Regions from separate parts of the Homo sapiens genome. Here region 1 is linked to region 2. The links come from fine-mapping of genetic effects on plasma protein levels. A gene starts in region 2. The other region holds a variant in brackets. All regions are shown on one strand. Distances are from middle to middle.

What was found. PIP is the posterior inclusion probability: the model's chance that the variant is causal. Sun 2018 read protein levels with aptamers (SomaScan).
Region 1: its variant is fine-mapped to the plasma level of the EVL protein (Sun 2018, PIP 0.95).

The regions. Positions count from the first base shown.
Region 1 is chr14:99,950,947-99,959,280 of GRCh38, forward strand. No RefSeq gene overlaps it. Among named protein-coding and RNA genes, the nearest start is that of EVL, 110 kb to the right of the region's middle. RefSeq lists an enhancer at 1-95. The variant C/CT (reference allele first, on the strand shown) is at 4,146.
Region 2 is chr14:100,060,744-100,069,077 of GRCh38, forward strand. EVL (Enah/Vasp-like) reads left to right here and starts at 4,679. Exons shown (of 14, transcript NM_016337.3): 1 at 4,679-4,768. The coding sequence starts at 4,758. LOC124903379 (a long non-coding RNA gene) reads right to left here and starts at 3,301. Exons shown (of 2, transcript XR_007064329.1): 1 at 2,387-3,301. RefSeq lists enhancers at 4,153-4,202, 4,553-4,642, 4,693-4,772, 4,823-4,962, 5,343-5,422 and 5 more.

The DNA.
Region 1 (8,334 bases), 110 kb before region 2:
TGGTGGGGCTGCAGTGACGCTCAGGGGTCGTCTTGGGGGAGCATCTCCCAAAGTATGTTCTGTGAAACCCAATTCCAAAGCATGTTAATAGCCCCTGTGTTGGGGAGGCACTGAGCTAGACGCATTAATATGCCCTGTGAGTCGAGAAGGGCTATTGTGTTCATCTATTCACCCAACAAACACCACCCCTACCCTGAGGCAGCACATCCTAGGGGCCGGGGATACCAGAGTTCTTGCTCTCATGGAACTGTGAATGGAGAAAGCAATGAAGAGGCTGAGGAGACTGTTCCCGCTGGAGATGGGCGGGGAGGGGCCGGTAGTCACAAGGGCTACTTAAGCCCAGGCACGCAGAGGAGGTGGCTTTTGAGCAGAGAGTGTGGTGACAGAATAAGGGCCTGAGACTTGCAGCCAGCTGGGGACACCCCTGGCTGAAGATACCAGGGCATGGTGTGAGAGTGCCAGGTCCCCGAGGCTGTCTAACTGCACAGCTTCTCCTTCCTGGGACATCACTGCTAGGCCAGAGACTCAGCACACCTCGGGGGAAAGGCTCTTTTGCCCACTCCCTCTTTTTAAAGGCAGAATCAAAGCCCTTTGGAGAACAGGGATTTACCCAAGGTTGCTGTGACCTTAGCTCGGGCAGCCCCCAGCTGCCCACCTTTGCTTCTTTTTAGAAAATGAAGGTTAATGTGCTTTAAATCATAAAACTCATCCAGACTCATTATAGCAAATTCAGAAAGAAGCCCAGCCATATCACTACCACCCTGAAATAGCACTATTACTTCTGAGCACATTTCCTTCCTGTATTTCTTTTTCGAGTAGTTTTGGATGTGTTTCCATAGTTAACATATTGCATATACAATGCTTTCTATTGCTTTTTTCATGTAGCTTTATAGGCATTTTCCCATGTCATTATAACTTTGTTATAAATAACTCCTATCAGCTGCATAACATGATGCCATAATCTATATCACTGCTCCTTGACAGTCTTCTCATATTGAAGATTGTGATGGTGATGATGATGGTGGTGGTGGTGGTGCTGATGATGGCAGTGATGGTAATGGTGATAATGTTGATGCCAATGATGTGGTGATGCTGGTGATCATGGTGGTGATAATGGTGGAGATGGTTACGGCGTGATAGTGATGATGATGGTTGTGATGTTTCATGGTGGTGGTGATGGTGGTGATGCTGCTGCTAGTGGTGATGGTGATGATGAAGGTGATGGTGATGTTGATGATCATGGTGATGATGATGATGGTGATTGTGGTGGTGACGATGATTGTGATGCTGAGGTGATGGTGATGGTGGTGATGCTGATGATGGTGGTGATGATGATGATTGTGATGCTGAGGTGATGATGGTGATAGTGATGGTGATGATGATGAGGATGATTGTGATGCTGACATGATGGTGATGGTGGTGATAGTGATGGTGATGATGATGATGATTGTGATGCTGAGGTGATGGTGATGGTGATGGCGGTGTTAGTGGTGGTGATAGTGGTGGTGATGCTGAGGTGATGGTGATGGTGATGGTGGTGATGCTGATGATTGTGGTGATGATGGTGGTGATGCTGATGGTGGTGATGATGGTAATGATGATGGTGGTGATACTGTTGTGAACTCCCAAAGTTTGAAACAGGTTTCAGTTAATTTAGAAAGTTTATTTTGCCAAGGTTCAGGACACACCCGTGACACAGCCTCAGGAAGTCCTGACAACATGTGCCAAGGTGGTCAGGGCACAGCTTGGTTTTATACATTTTAGGGAGACATGAGACGTCAATGAATATATGTAAGAATTACATTAGTTCCATGCAAAAAGGCAGAGACAACTAAAAGCAACCCCCCCACCCCTTCCCTTCCAGGTCACAGGTAGGTGAGAGACAGATGGTTGCATTCTTTTGAGTTTCTGATAAGTCTTTCCAAAGGAGGCAATCAGAATATGCATGTATCTCTGTGAGCAGAGGGATGACTTTGAATAGAATGAGAGGCAGATTTGTCCTGAGCGGTTCCCAGCTTGAAGGGGCCCAAGATATTTTCCTTTCACACTGGTGATCATGGTGGTGATGGTGGTGATGGTGGTGATGGTGATGGTGGTGGTAATGATGGTGATAATGATGATAATAAAAAATACTAAAGGCCACCCTTACTGAATGCCATTTCTCCACAGTGTACTTGTGCTTTATATGCTCCTTCCATCAACATTTAGACAGGCTCAAATATTTCCTGTTAGAAAAAAACCTTCCTGGTCCATCCCTTTGCCACAGAGCTCTCTCGGGGCCCTCTTCTCTTCTCCCTCCACCTTCTCCCCAGGTTATCTCATCAGCTCCCTGGGGCCAGCCGCCTCTTCAACCCTTACAAGGTCCCAATCACTATCTTTGACTCAGCCTGTCTCCTAGCTTCAAACCTCTGTGTTCAACATCCTGCAGGATGTCTCCATCTGCTCATTCACTGGAGCCTCCATCTCTACATGCTCAAACCCAATTCATCCACTTCTCCCCCAAAAACCCGCATGCCATCCTCCCAGTGGCCCATGCCAGGCATGTGGGTGTTCCTCTTGCCTGTATCAGCAAGCAGCCAATAAGTGACAACCTCGATAGCATCACTCAGCGAGCTCTTACCCACCCCTTGCCAGGTACTGTTGGAGGTGCCTTATGCATGACGGCTCCTTCAACACTCTCAACAGCCCTGTGAGAGGGTCACACAGTGAAACAATTGGGATTTTAACCCATGTAGTCAGGTTTCCAAGATCACACTCAACCACAGCACCATTCTGCCTCTTCCAGAATCGAGGGCTCTGCTCCATGAGGAGCCAGGGCACGTGTCCACGTCATCTCTCCACGGATGCTGCCTATGCCCTGGAGGGCCACCATCACTGCTGGCCTGGCTGCAGCCATGTTGACCTTCCTCCAGGCAGTCTGAGTGACCTTTCCAAACCATAAATCTGACCATATCACTCTCCTGCTTAAAAATTCTTAGGAAAAAGCTCCTTCATGTTACACACAGGACCGGTCAGTGAGCTCTGGTTCCTCTCCAGCACCATCTCTCAGCTCCTGCCACAGAGCTTTTCTCTGTCCAACCACCACGGCAGCCTCTCGTTGCCACCTGGTCTTTGCTCATGCTCTGTGCCCCCAACCCTCTTCCTCTCATCATTCTGGCCAACCACCATAACTTTCAGAACTCAGCTCAAAAGTCACTTCCAGCAGGGCACAGTGGCTCACACCTGTAATCCCAGCACTCTAGGAGGGCAGGGCCAGTGGATCATCTGAGGTCAGGAGTTCGAGACCAACCTGACCAACATGGTGACACCCCGTCTCTACTAAAAATACAAAAATTAGCCGGGCATGGTGGCAGGCACCTGTAGTCCCAGCTACTCAGGAGGCCGAGGCAGGAGAATCCCTTGAACCCAGGAGGCGGAGGTGGCAGTGCGCCAAGATTGCACCACTGCACTCCAGTGTGGGCGACAGAGCAAGACTCCGTCTCAAAAAAAAATAAAAAGTCACTTATTCCGAGAAGGCTTCCCTGAGTGCCAAGGCTGGTTCTTGTCCCTCCTCTGTGTCCCCACCTCTGTTGTACTTCCCTTCTCATGCTGAATTGTGGGTGTAGGTTTATGTGCCTCCAGCCTTTCTGCCAATCAGCACCCTAAGGTGGAAGCACTCTGCATCTCGGGCACTCTTCTTTCCCATCACCTAGCACAGTGCCTGGTGCCCACATGTTATCAGAAGTGTTTGGTGAATACATGAAGGAGTGGACTGTGAGCCTCTGAACTTGCAGTACCCTTTGCCCTTCACACTTCACCCTGAGCATCTTTTCTTGCTTTGGGTGTTTTGCTATGGCAGAGGAGACTGCAGTGAGCAGCTGTCCACTGAGCTTTTCTTTTAGTTAAATTTATTTCTTTGAGGCAAATGCCCAGAAGTGGAATTACTGAGTTAGCAGGCAAGATCATCTTTATGTCTTCTGATATGTTTTGCAAAAATGAATTCCAAAATTATGGTAGCAATTTGGTAGATTTTTTTCTTTTTTAGCAACCTAATCCTCTCTCCCTTTTTAAGTGTCTTCCTGGCGGAAGCCACACAAAGCTATTTTTACCTAAAGGCTGTAAACCTCATCATTCTCCAAGGAGAAAGTCGGGCATGTGTGAGGAAG[C/CT]TATCTACCCACCTCACAGGCTCATCAGCCCTATGCTCTTGCCAAGCTCTAGGTCATTTTGGAAAAGCAAGTTGAAATTATATTCCAAATTAGGCAGTGGTTTTGCGAAAGAAGGAACACACACACACACACACACACACACACACACACACACACACACGTCACACACATATTCATCTCCATTTCGGGGCTAAATTATGAACATCTTTATCACTCAAAGAAACCAGAAAGTTATCAAAGCAAAACCAGTGAACTTTGCCAGGTGAATGTTACGAAGTTTGGACGTGGAAGTAGCTCGGAAGTTGGGGGATCACCTGGTTTTCACACTTTGTTTCAACAGTGTGATGGTTAATTTCATGTGTCAACTTGACTAGGCTAAGGGATGCCCAGAGAGCTGGTCAAACCTTCTTTCTGGTGGTGTTTGCGAGTGTCTCCAGAAGAGAATCAGTAGACTAAGGAAGCTTGATCTCACCAATGCGGGGGTAGGGTGGGGGGGCTGGGGGGTCATCATCCAACTTGTTGAGAACCTGAACAGAACAAAAAGGTAGAGGAAGGGCGAACTTTCTCTCTCTGTTTGACATCTACTAGGACATCAATCTTCTCCTGCCCCAGAACGTTGAAGCTCCTGGTTCTCAGGCCTTTGGACCTGGACTGGGATTCCCACCACCAGCTCCCCTTGTTCTTAGGCCTTCAAATGTGAACTGGAACCACACCACCCGCTTTCCTGGGCCACCAGTTTGCAGATGGCTGATCATGGGACATCTCAGCCTCCATAATCGCATAAGCCAATCCCCCATAATAAATCTCTTTCTATTTGTCTATACACTATACATCCTATTGGCTCTGTTTCTCTGAAGAACCCTGACTAATACCAGCAGCAAAACCTTTTTTCAGATGAAATCATACAAGAAAATCCACTCTGTAATAAGGTTAAGAATGGGGCTGCTCTGGCAGAAGCAGTCAGAGGTGGTGGTGACTCAGAAGCACTCTCACCCTATCTTGTTCCTTCCTCCTCCCTAACACCCCCTGCCCTGGCCACCTCCACCTGCCCCACGGGGCTCCAGAGTCTGCCATCTTGGAGCGGCCTCTGGAGGAAACAGAGGCTCAGGGAGAGGAAGGACCTGCCCAAATCCCCACAGTGAAGGGTGGCAGAGCGGGGTCTACCTGCCGGGCTCCTGGCTCAGTCTTGGGATGGTTCTCAACTATTGTCTTGACAGGAGCCTGCTCAGTTATTCACAGTTACAATGCACATCTTTTCAAGGACGGCCCGAGGTGGCTGGTTTCCCCCAGTGGTTAACCACCCAGGTGCCCCCAGGTATAGTTTGGTTTTAAAATTCTTCCAATTTAAGTTCCCCTATTACCAACATTTCTACTTACTTGATTTTTAAGAAAATCACCCATTGCATGTAGAACAGGTGGACATTTATTGAAATGCAACTGCAATAACATCCCCTGGAAATTAACTTCCTCTCATTTGCCCCTGTGAGTCTGTCTCATTTCTCATTCCTTCTGTTCTGTGCTTTTTTTTCTCTTTTATTTCTTGCACATTGTGAGTTTTCAATTTTTTTTTGAAGAAGCATATTTTAATTTTATTTTTCAGTATTTCAGTTATCTAATTCACTATTTTCAGCTTTTATCTTTATTCATTTCCTCCTCATAATTTCTTTTTATTTATTTTGCTGGGTTTTTTTGTTCTGTTTTGTGTGTTTGTTTGTTTTTTGAGATACAGTGTCATTCTGTCTCCCAGGCTGGAGTGCAGAGGCAGGATCTCGGCTCACTGCAACCTCCGCCTCCCATGCTCCAGCAGTTCTCCTGCCTCAGCCTCCCGAATAGCTGGGATTACAGGCACCCACCACCACACCCGGCTAATTTTTGTATTTTTAGTAGAGACGGGGTGTCACCATGTTAGCCAGGCTGGTTTTGAACTCTTGACCTCAAATGATCCGCCCACCTCAGCCTCCCAAAGTGCTGGGATTACAGGCATGAGCCACTGCGCCCGGCCTATTTTGTTGTGTTTTAAGTTGAATATTTAATTCACTTATATATGTATTGCTTGTTTTGCTTTTTTATTTTTATTTTATTTTGAGACGGAGTCTTGCTCTGTCACCCAGGCTGGAGTACAGTGGCACTATCTCAGCTCACTGCAACCTCCACCTCCTGAGTTCAAGCGATTCTCCTGCCTCAGCCTCCCAAGTAGTTGGTATTACAGGCGCCTGCCACCACGCCTGGCTAATTTTTGTATTTTTAGTAGAGATAGGGTTTCACCATGTTGGCCAGGCTGGTCTCGAACTCCTGACCTCAGGTGATCCGCCCTCCTCTGCCTCCCAAAGTGCTAAGATTCCAGATGTGAGCCACCACGTCCAGCCTTGGTTTTTTTTTTGTTTTTTTTTTTTTTTGAGACAGGGTTTCACTCCCATCACCTAGGCTGGAGTGCAATGGCGCAATCTCAGCTCACTACAACCTCCGCCTCCTGGGCTCTAGCGATTCGCCTGCCTCAGCCTCCTCAGTAGCTGGGATTACAAGCATGTGCCACCACGCCCAGCTAATTTTTGTATTTTTAGTAGAGATGGGGTTTCGCCATCTTGGCCAGGCTGGTCTTGAATTCCTGACGTCAAATGATCCACCTGCCTCAGCCTCCCTAAGCACTGAGATTACAGGCGTGAGCCAGCACGCCTGGTCCATTTATATACATTCTTTGTTGTATAATAATAAAAGCATTTAAGGTATCACTGTATCCCATAAGTGTTGCTCTGAAGTTTTCTCCTTTTCATTAATTTCTTTTTAATTTGTAGTTTTAACATTGATTTCTTTCTTTTTTTTTTTTTTATTTAAATTGAGACCAGGTCTCATTCTGTCATCCAGGCTGGAGTGCAGTGGCGTGATCACAGCTCACTGCAGCCTTGACCTCCCAAGGCTCAGGGAATCCTCCCACCTCAGCCTCCCGAGTAGCTGAGACTACAGGTGCGCACCACCACGCCCAGTTAATTTTTGTATTTCTTGTAGAGACAGGGTTTTGCCATGTTGCCCAGGCTGGTCTCAAACTCCTGGGCTCAAGTGATCATCCTGCCTCAGCCTCCCAAAGTGCTGGGATTATAGGCGTAAGCCACCACGCCTGGCCGATTTCTTCTTTAAGCTAAAACTTACCTATAATAGAAGAGTATTTTATACTTCTAATGTTTTATTATGTTTTTATGGTTATCTGGGGTTTTTTTTTTTTTGCACTCCAGTGAAATTTCTGAACTCTAAGGATAACATTCTGTATATAAGTAATCTGTTTGTTCTGCCAGAAGCTGATATCAGATTACTTATGTACAGAATGTTCCCCTTACATCCACCCCAATATGCCCAAACCTAATGCCTGTGAATATGTAGGTTACATGGCAAAGGGGAATTAAGGTTTCAGGTAGAATGAAGGTTGCTAATCGGATGACCTTAAAATAGGGTGATTATCATGGATCATTACACTGGCAGCCACTGGGGCCAATGTCATCACAAGGGTCCCTAACAGTGGAAGACAGAGGCACAGGAGGTCAGAGGGAGACACGACTGCCGACAAAAGGTCAGCGATGCCATGTGAGAGAGACTTAACCCCCGCGGCTGGCTTTGAAGAGGGCCCCATTCTAAGGGGCCACGAGCCCAAGAATATGGGCAGCCTCTGAGAGAAGGTGGAAGAGGCAAATAAACTCACCCAGAGCCTCCAGAAGAATGCAGCCCTACTGGCACCTTGGCTTTAGCCCAGAGAGACTTTTGAGCTCTGGAACCGTAAGATAATAAAAATGTGTGTTGTTTGAAGCCACTCTGCTGTTGGTAACTTATGTTAGCAATAGGAAACTGATATGATATGTGAAAAAGGGACTCCAACTGGTTACCAGGTTTCTTTCTTTCTCTTTCTTCCTTTCTTTCTTGACAGAGTCTCGCTCTGTCGCCCAGGCTGGAGTGCAGTGGCGCAATCTCGGCTCACTGCAAACTCCACCTCCCGGGTTCACGCCATTCTCCTGCCTCAGCCTCCCGAGTAGCTGGGACTACAGCCACCCACCACCATGCCTGGCTAATTTTTTGTATTTTTAGTAGAGACGGGGTTTCACCGTGTTAGTCAGGATGGTCTCGATCTCCTGACATTGTGATCCGCCCTCCTCGGCCTCCCAAAGTGCTGGGATTACAGGCGTGAGCCACCACGCCTGCCCTTCCT
Region 2 (8,334 bases):
AATTACATACCTAAGAATCTCAGTGAAACCCTAGCAAAATGAATGCAAAAAGAACCACACCTAAACCCATCAAAGTCACACTGCTGAAAACGAAAGAAAAAGAAAATATTAAAAATGACCAAAGGAAAAGGGATCCATTGCATACATTATATGTGAATGATGGCTGACTTCTCAGAAACCATGGAGGCCAGAAGACAATGAAACAATACCTTTAAAGTGCTGAAAGACAAAAAAAAAAAAAAAACCTCAGTATTCTCTATTCACAAAAAGTGCTTTGAAGCTTGAAGACAAAGATGTTTTTCAGATAAAAGAAAACTAAGAGAATGTATTGCCAACTTACCTGTTGTACAGAAAATCCTAAAGGAGGCCAGGCATGGTGGCTCACGCCTGTAATCCCAGCCCTTTCGGAGGCTGAGGTGGACGGATCCCTTGAGACCAGGAGTTTGAGACCAGCCAGGGCAACATGTTGAAACCCTTCTCTACAAAAAATACAAAAATTACAAAATACAAAAAATACAAAAATACACCAGACATGGTGGCACATGTCCTTAGTCCCAGCTACTCAGAAGGCTGAGGCAGGAGGATCATTTGAGCCTGGGAGGCAGAGGTTGCAGTGAGCTGAGATCACCCAGCTTGGGTGACAGAGCAAGACCCTGTCTCAAAAAAAAAAAAAAAAAAAAAAAAAAAAGAAATGCTAAAGGAAGTTCCTCAGGCTGCAAAAAAAAAAAAAAAAAAAAAGATACCAGGAAATTCAAGTGCTCGGGGATGGATAAAGATTACCAGAAAAGAGAAATATATGAGTAAACCTAAAGACTTTTATTTCTTCAATACACGCACACACGCACATGACTTGAACAATCCCGGGGTTAGGGTACTGGCCCCTCGAACAGTTGAAAATCCACCTAAACTTTTGCATCCCCCAAAATTTTAGCTATTAAGAGCCTGTTGTTGACAGGAAGCCCTACCAATAACATAAGCAGTTGGTTAATACATACTTTGTATATTATGTGTATTATACACTGTATTCTTATAATTAAGCTAGAGAAAAAATTTTATTAAAATCATAGGTGAAAATATGTTTTCATTAGTTTCACTAGTCATTAATTGGAAATGGATTATCTTAAAGTTCTTCATCCTTGTCATCTTCACATTGAATAGGCTGAGGAGCAAGAGGAAAAGGAGGGGTTGGTCTTGCTGTCTCGGGGTGGCAGAGGTAAAAGAAATTCCATGTGCAAGTGGACCTGGGTCAGGCATGGTGGTAGCTCATGCCTGTAGTCCTAGCACTTTGGGAGGCTGAGATGGGAGGATTGCTTGAGCCCAGGAAGTTGAGGCTGCAGTGAGCTGTAATCATACCACTGTACGCCGGCCTACGCAACAGAGTGAGACCACATCTCAAAAAAAGAAATAGTAGTATAATGGACCTGTGAAGGTCAAACCTGTGCTGTTCAAGAGTCAGCTGTGTGTATATATATATATATGTATATATATATATATGACTGTCCAAAACAAAAATATGTAACATTGTATTTTGAGTAACATATGACAGCTACACCATAAAGGATGGGAATGGAGAATGAAATTATGCAATTATGAAGTTCTTAACATTTTACTGAAGTGGTACAATATTAACTCTAAGTGTACCCTACAAAGTTAAGAATGTATATTGTAATCCCTAGAAAGACCTCTAAAAAAAAAAGAGGTATAGCTAAAAAGTCAATAGAGAAATTCAAATGGAATTCTGAAAAGTATTTAGTTTACCCACAAGAATACAGGAAACGAAGAACAGAGGAACCAGAAACAGATGAGACAAACAGAAAACAAATAGCAAAGTAGTAGACCTGTATCCATCTACATCAATAAACTAAATGTAAATAGACTAAATACCCCAATTAAAAGATAGAAATTGTCAGACTGGGTGAAAATGCAAGACTCAGTCATACACTACCTATAGGACATACTTTAAATACAAAGATACAAATCGACTGAAAGTGAAAGGATGGGTAGTAGGCAGAGTAATGCCATCACCCCGCCGTAATCCCTAGAACCTGTGACTGTGTGACTTTACATGGGATGGGCATGGTGACTCATGCCTGTAATCCTAGCACTTTGGGGGCCAAGGCAGGAGGATCACTTGAGGCCAGGAGTTTGAGATCAGCCTCGGAAACATAGCAAGACCCCATCTCTATTTAAAAAACTGTTTTCAAATTAGCCAGGCATGATGGTGTGTGCCTATAGTCCTAACTACTCAGGAAGCTGAGGTAAGGAGGATCACTTGAGCCAGGAGTTTGAGGCTGCAGTGAACTATGATCACACCACTGCATTTCAGCCTGGGTGACAGCAAGAGACCCTGCCTCTAAAAAAGTAAATAAATAAAATGTTACCTTACATGGCAAAAAGGACTCTGCAGACGTGATTAAAGTTGTGGACCTTGAGATGGAGCGGTTATCTTGGATTATCCATTGGGTCCAGTCTAATCACACGAGTCCTTAAAAGTAGAGAACCTGTCCACACCGCGGTCAGAAAGAGATGTCACTGTGGAAGAAGGGTCGGAGCACTGCTGCGTGCTTTGAAAGTGGACAGAGGGGCTATGAGAAAGCAATGCAGTCAGTGTCCAGAAGCTGAGAGAGGTGAGCAAGAGAGACCTATGTGGAACTTCTGATGATGTTGGGCTTCTGACCTCCTATCATCTTACAAAACTCTAAGATAATAAGTGTGTGTTGTTATAAGCCACTCAGTTTGTGGTAATTTGTTACAGCAGCCGCAGAAAACCAATGCTGCATGGAAAAATGTACCTAACAAGAGCTTCAAGAAATAGTGACAGAATTAAAGAGGGAAATCCACAGTCACAGTTGAAGATTTCAGGACCTTTCCCTCAGCAGTTGATAGAATAATTAGACAAAAACAAACAACAGCAACAAAAAGTAACAAGGACGTAGACGTTCTGAACAATACTATTAACCACCATGACCTAATTGACATTCTAGAACACTGCACCCGACCAGTTTCAGAATACACATTCTTTCCTTGTGCATATGCTACATCCGCCAAGGTAGACTGCATGCTGGGCCATAACGCACATTTTGATAAATGTGAAAGGATTGAGATCATACCAGGAAAAACAAAGGAAGAAGTCACACCAAATATGTTCTCTGGCCCCAGTAGAATTAAATTGGAAATAGGTAGCAACAGATATAGGAAAACACCAAATATTTCAAAATTTAACGAAGCACTTATCAATAATCCATGGATAAAAGAAGAAATCACTAGAGAAAATTAAAAATATTTTGAACCAAAAGAAAAAAGAAAACTGCAATACATCCAAACTGTGGTTTGCAACTAAAACAGTGCTTAAAGGGAAATGTATATCATTAAAAGCCTTTTAAAATGCATTTTTAGCATTCAAAGTGCATTCATCTCTCCAATTAGAACTGATACTTCTTTTGTACTGTACTCTGTACAGCTGTTTTTCACTATATCAATAATATTTTAATGGATCTATTAAATATTTGCTAACATTATCAACCTCTTCTTTTCTAAACCATAAAAGTCCTTTAAGGACAAGTACAGTCGTTCTCAATTTTTTGTCTGTGATTTCTAACACAGTGCATGCTTCTTAGTGAGTTCTCAGTAGATTTTGAAAGAAAGATTGGACTGGATCTTACCTTCATGAGAACCCTGTGGAGATAGGCAAAATAAGTATAACCCCATTTTACAGTTGAGGCCACCCACTTAATAAACAAGTGACAAAGCCAAGTTTCCAGTATTCCTCAAGTGTTTTCCTTTCAGGCTCTAAATTGCTGACTTAAATGTCATCATTAGAGAGAGTTGTCTCCTCGGTAGAAGTACAAATTTTGTTCCAGAGTCAAATATGAAGACTTGATCAGTGGCCTGGCGCGGTGGCTCACGCCTGTAATCTCAGCACTTTGGGAGGCCAAGGCAGGCGGATCACCTGAGGTCGGGAGTTCGTGACCAGCCTGACCAACATGGAGAAACCCCGTCTCTACTAAAAATACAAAATTAGCTGGGCATGGTGGCACATGCCTATAATCCCAGCTACTCAGGAGGCTGAGGCAGGAGAATCGCTTGAACCCAGGAAGCTGTGGTGGCGGTGAGCCAAGATCGTGCCATTGCACTCCAGCCTGGGTGACAGGAGTGTGAAACTCTGTCTCAAAAAAGAAAAAAAGACTTGATCAGCTTATAGCCTTTATCATCTAGTCTTCTATTCTCTGGAGAGTCAGTGGGGACTCTTCCGAGTTCTTGTAGCCTTTTCTTAAGGCCTATAGGAAGTCATCTGTGCTGAGCCTGCACTTTCTATAACAGATGGAAAACTGAAGCTCAGACATCTTAAGTGGCATTGACTTAGACTATAGAGCTAGTTAGTGGGGGGCCAGCACCATGACCTGGCCCCTACCTCCAGCAGGCTTCACCCACCCTTGCACCCTTGCAGGAAGCACTTAGAGGCTTGAGGTTGCCAGCTGTGGGGGGTTGGGCCTGTGCAGTGCCTCTCAGCCGCCCACGCTGGTGGGGCTCTGCAGTGTTAGCTTCTTGTTTCTCTATTTTCTACCTAGGTTTCAGTTTTTCACTTGGGTTTGTTTCCCCTTTGTCTCTGGTTCAGCTTCCTTTTCCTGTTTGGTTTTAAGTAGGCTATAAAAATCAAGTTGCTGTCTTCAGAGGGTCTGTGGTCCTCTGATCAACATAGGCTGGTGGGAGTACAGGACTCGCCTCCTCAGGGTTCCCTGTGCTGCCACTTTTCAGCCATGGCCACAAGGTGAGTATTGGAACCAGTGCAGGGGACAGAGGGATGTCAAGAGGAAACCTAGAATCTTAACGGTGAATGGGCTGTAGAAATTATCTCAGGTCCCCTTAGTATACTGATCGAGAAGTCCATGACCAGAGGGCAGGGGGCTTACATGAGGTTACACAGCAGGTTAGTGACAGTCTGCTCCCTCTCTAGCCGCTGGTCTTTCCATTACACAGGCCTGTGTCTCTTGATGCCTGTGACCTTTAATGGCTTCTGAGTCAAGGACTTACTTAGAAATTAGCACCTGCCTCTCATTATAGGGAGGAGGGTCTGAGCCATCTAGGGGAATTGTTGTTTAGCTCAGAGGTACATTTGGTGAGTCCTGGCCCTTCTCTCTAGAATGACCCGAGACTGGTTGTTTTTTCTAAATATAGGCAGAGAGGGTTCTTTTTATGATAGGAACTTCATGAACTTAATAGCAAGAGTCCTGACCCTCCACTTGAGAGACTTGTGGACTTAGGCTATTGCTGTTGAGCACATGTGTGAATACCAGCCAGTCTACAAACCGCACTCCTCATTGAGATTGTTCTCTCTAAAGGTGAGATTACATTTTGGACCTGCCTCTCCCCTGCCCTACAACTCTGAAAGATTATAGATGATAGGACAGACAGACTTTTATCCTGTGGGGTTTGGGGCATTTGTTTGATTGACTCATGACAGCTTTGTTTTTTAGCATAAAGTAACAATCCCTCACTTTGAAAATTATTTCACAATTTCCAAAGTGCCATTTCGCCAGTTTTCTTATTTGAATCTTTTAGCCGTGTTAGATTGATGAGAACGCTGTCATCACTCCTGTTTCGTAGCTGAGAAAACCTCTGAAAAGTTGTGGGGTTTGTCCAAGGTCACATGGCAGGTTGGGGAAGGAATGGAACCAGGGTTTAACGAGGTTGGCCTCATCCGGTGGTTTTCGCAGCACGCTACACAGGCACAGAAGCAGCTTGCAGTGAGTTGTTAAAATTGACGTGGTGATAGGTAGAACTTGTCCAGGGCTGCTTATTTTCCAGTTGGCTTTATTTCTGATCCTGTCATTTTAGTAACTTTCCTTTAACTTTAGAGGACTCGTGAGTGGAGCTTTAGAAAACAGAATGCTTTTCATTTCAAAGGCATATCAACTTCCAAAGTCATTTTCAGTTGTAAATTACATTGTGAAAACTTCTAGCAGCTTATTCTACCGTGTCAATTACTAATTGCAGAAAATTATATCAAAAGTAAATGAGGCACAGCAATTTCTTTTTCAATTTTAAAATCGTAGAAATCCTAGAAATTTCCATCTTGAAAAGACCTTGGAGGTGATCTACAGTAGATAAGATGTTTTGGGCACCTTATTCTCCACTTCAGCCAAAATAACTCTGCTTTTATGTTTTCTATGTATTCCTTGATAATTCATTGAGAAAAAACAGTCATTGTTGGTGGTGGTGATGACTTTCAAGTCTGAAGATTACACTAATCTAGCCCAGCTCTTGAGTGCGCAGATCAGGAAATTGAGGCCCAGTGTGGAGCAGAATTTGTGTACGGGGAGCGGAGTAGTGGCTGAACCAAAGCAAAAGCCCAGGTTTTCTGGTGCGTCCCTCCCCCGTACAAGGCTGCTTGCACTCTGCCACAGGTCCCTGGCCTGGCACCATAGTGACAGTCCTGGTGGAAGCAGCGTTCGTGGAGCTGCAAGGTCAGCAGCCATAGGAGCTGTGAACTTTTCGTTTTTCCTCATGCTGACTGACACATGGGGATACCGTGGCGCCTGTGGTGGGGATACAAAGGACCTTTTAAATGTGAAAATATATCTTACCAGCTCTAGCTCTGGCTACCCACCAATCAAGAAACAGTTTCCAAGCCCTGACTGGATTAGGAGCTGGGAATTCTCTTGAGTGCATGACAACGTACAGAATGCTTTCACTGACGTTATTTAGTTATCGCAATAATCCTGAAGGTAGTGTTGTGGGGCGTTTTTGTTTTTGTATTTTTTAGAGATGAGGTCTTGCTTTATTGCCCAGGCTGGCCTCAAACTCCCGGGCTCGAGCAAGCCTCCTGCCTCAGCGGGACTACAGGTGTGGGCCACCACACCCAGCTAGCATTGTTTTTATTGTTTCTGTTTCACAGGAGAGAGTAACTTGACAAGAGACATAGCCAGTGAGTGATAGACCCAGGACTTGAACCTGTGCCTCCTGACCACAGATGCTTTGCCCTTTTGCTCTTACGCCTGAATTAGAGCTGCCTCTGTCCTCAGGGACTGGTAGGGAGTGAGGAAGACAGCACTCACAGAAATGAGGAGGCGACTGGCTGTGAGGACCCTGCAGCACAGAGAGTAATAAGCATAGACAGGAGGGGCAGTAAGAGTTGAGAAGTTGGGGACTGTCAGGGAAGACCTCAAAGAGAAAGTGGGATCTCAGGTGAACTTTGAAGAATAGGGATGATTTTTTAGAAGGCACTGGCAGGCATCACAGGCAACCAGTCACCCAGCGGCTGCTCTGGGTGCTAGGGACACAGTGGTAAACAAGACAGGCAGTCTTGTCCTCAAACTGAGGGCAGAGTCGGGAGGCAGAATATAGTCAAGAAACCATCAACAAGAGACGTGAAAACAATAGAGCAGTGTGGTAGAGAGTGACTGGGCCACGCCTTAGGGGACATGTGGGGACATGAGGCAGCCATGCTAAAATCTGAAGGTTTTGGGGTGGAAAGGGCAGCAAGTATCCTCAGCTGGGGACGAGGCCCTGAGATAGGAATGGTTTGGTGGGTTCAAGGGTCAAGAAAAATACAGAGGCTGGAGCAACATGAAGAAGGAAGAGTGAAGGCAAATAAGGGCACAGAAGGCTTTATCAGGCCCAACGGCAAAGCCTGCGAGCTGTGCTGAATTTAGCGCGTATGTCAGAATTTAGTTAGGGGAAGCCTTTGGAGGGAGGGTTTGAAGCAAAGGGAAAGACATCTCATAGAAGCTTAAGAAAATCACTCTGGGCCCTGTGTGGATAATGGCTGGCAGTGTGGCAAGAATGGAGGCAGGATGACCTCTTGGGAGGCTACCGCAGTCATCCAGGTAAGAGGTGAGGGTGGTTTGGGCCAGCAGTGGAGCAGTCAGGGTAGGCGGTGAGAAGTCACCAGATTCAGGAAGTGCCGTGGTGCTGTAGCCTCCAGGACTATCTGGTGGATCACACATGGGCGTGGGGGAAACATGAGTCAGACATGGCTTAGGTGGGTGGTGATTCCTTTCACCACGCTGGGGCAGCTGGGGTGCTAGCTGGAAGAATCTGTAGAGGTGTGGGCCTAGCAGCACAGGTTCCCAGGAAATGTGGGTTGAACAAGGCTGACCTGAGCAGGAAGTAGCTGAGGTCGCGGTGCAGCAGCAGGAAACGTGATATGGATGTGTGATATGTCTGCCACTTTTGGGGCCAGCCAGTTAATTTCGTTTCCTTCCCTGGTCTCTCTGTTGTCTTTGGTAGGCTGTGGGTTTTTCCGAAGCACGTACTATCTTCTAACGTATTATAGAACTTACTTGTTCTACTGTATACTGTCTTTACCCCTCAAGAATGTAAACTCCCAGAAGG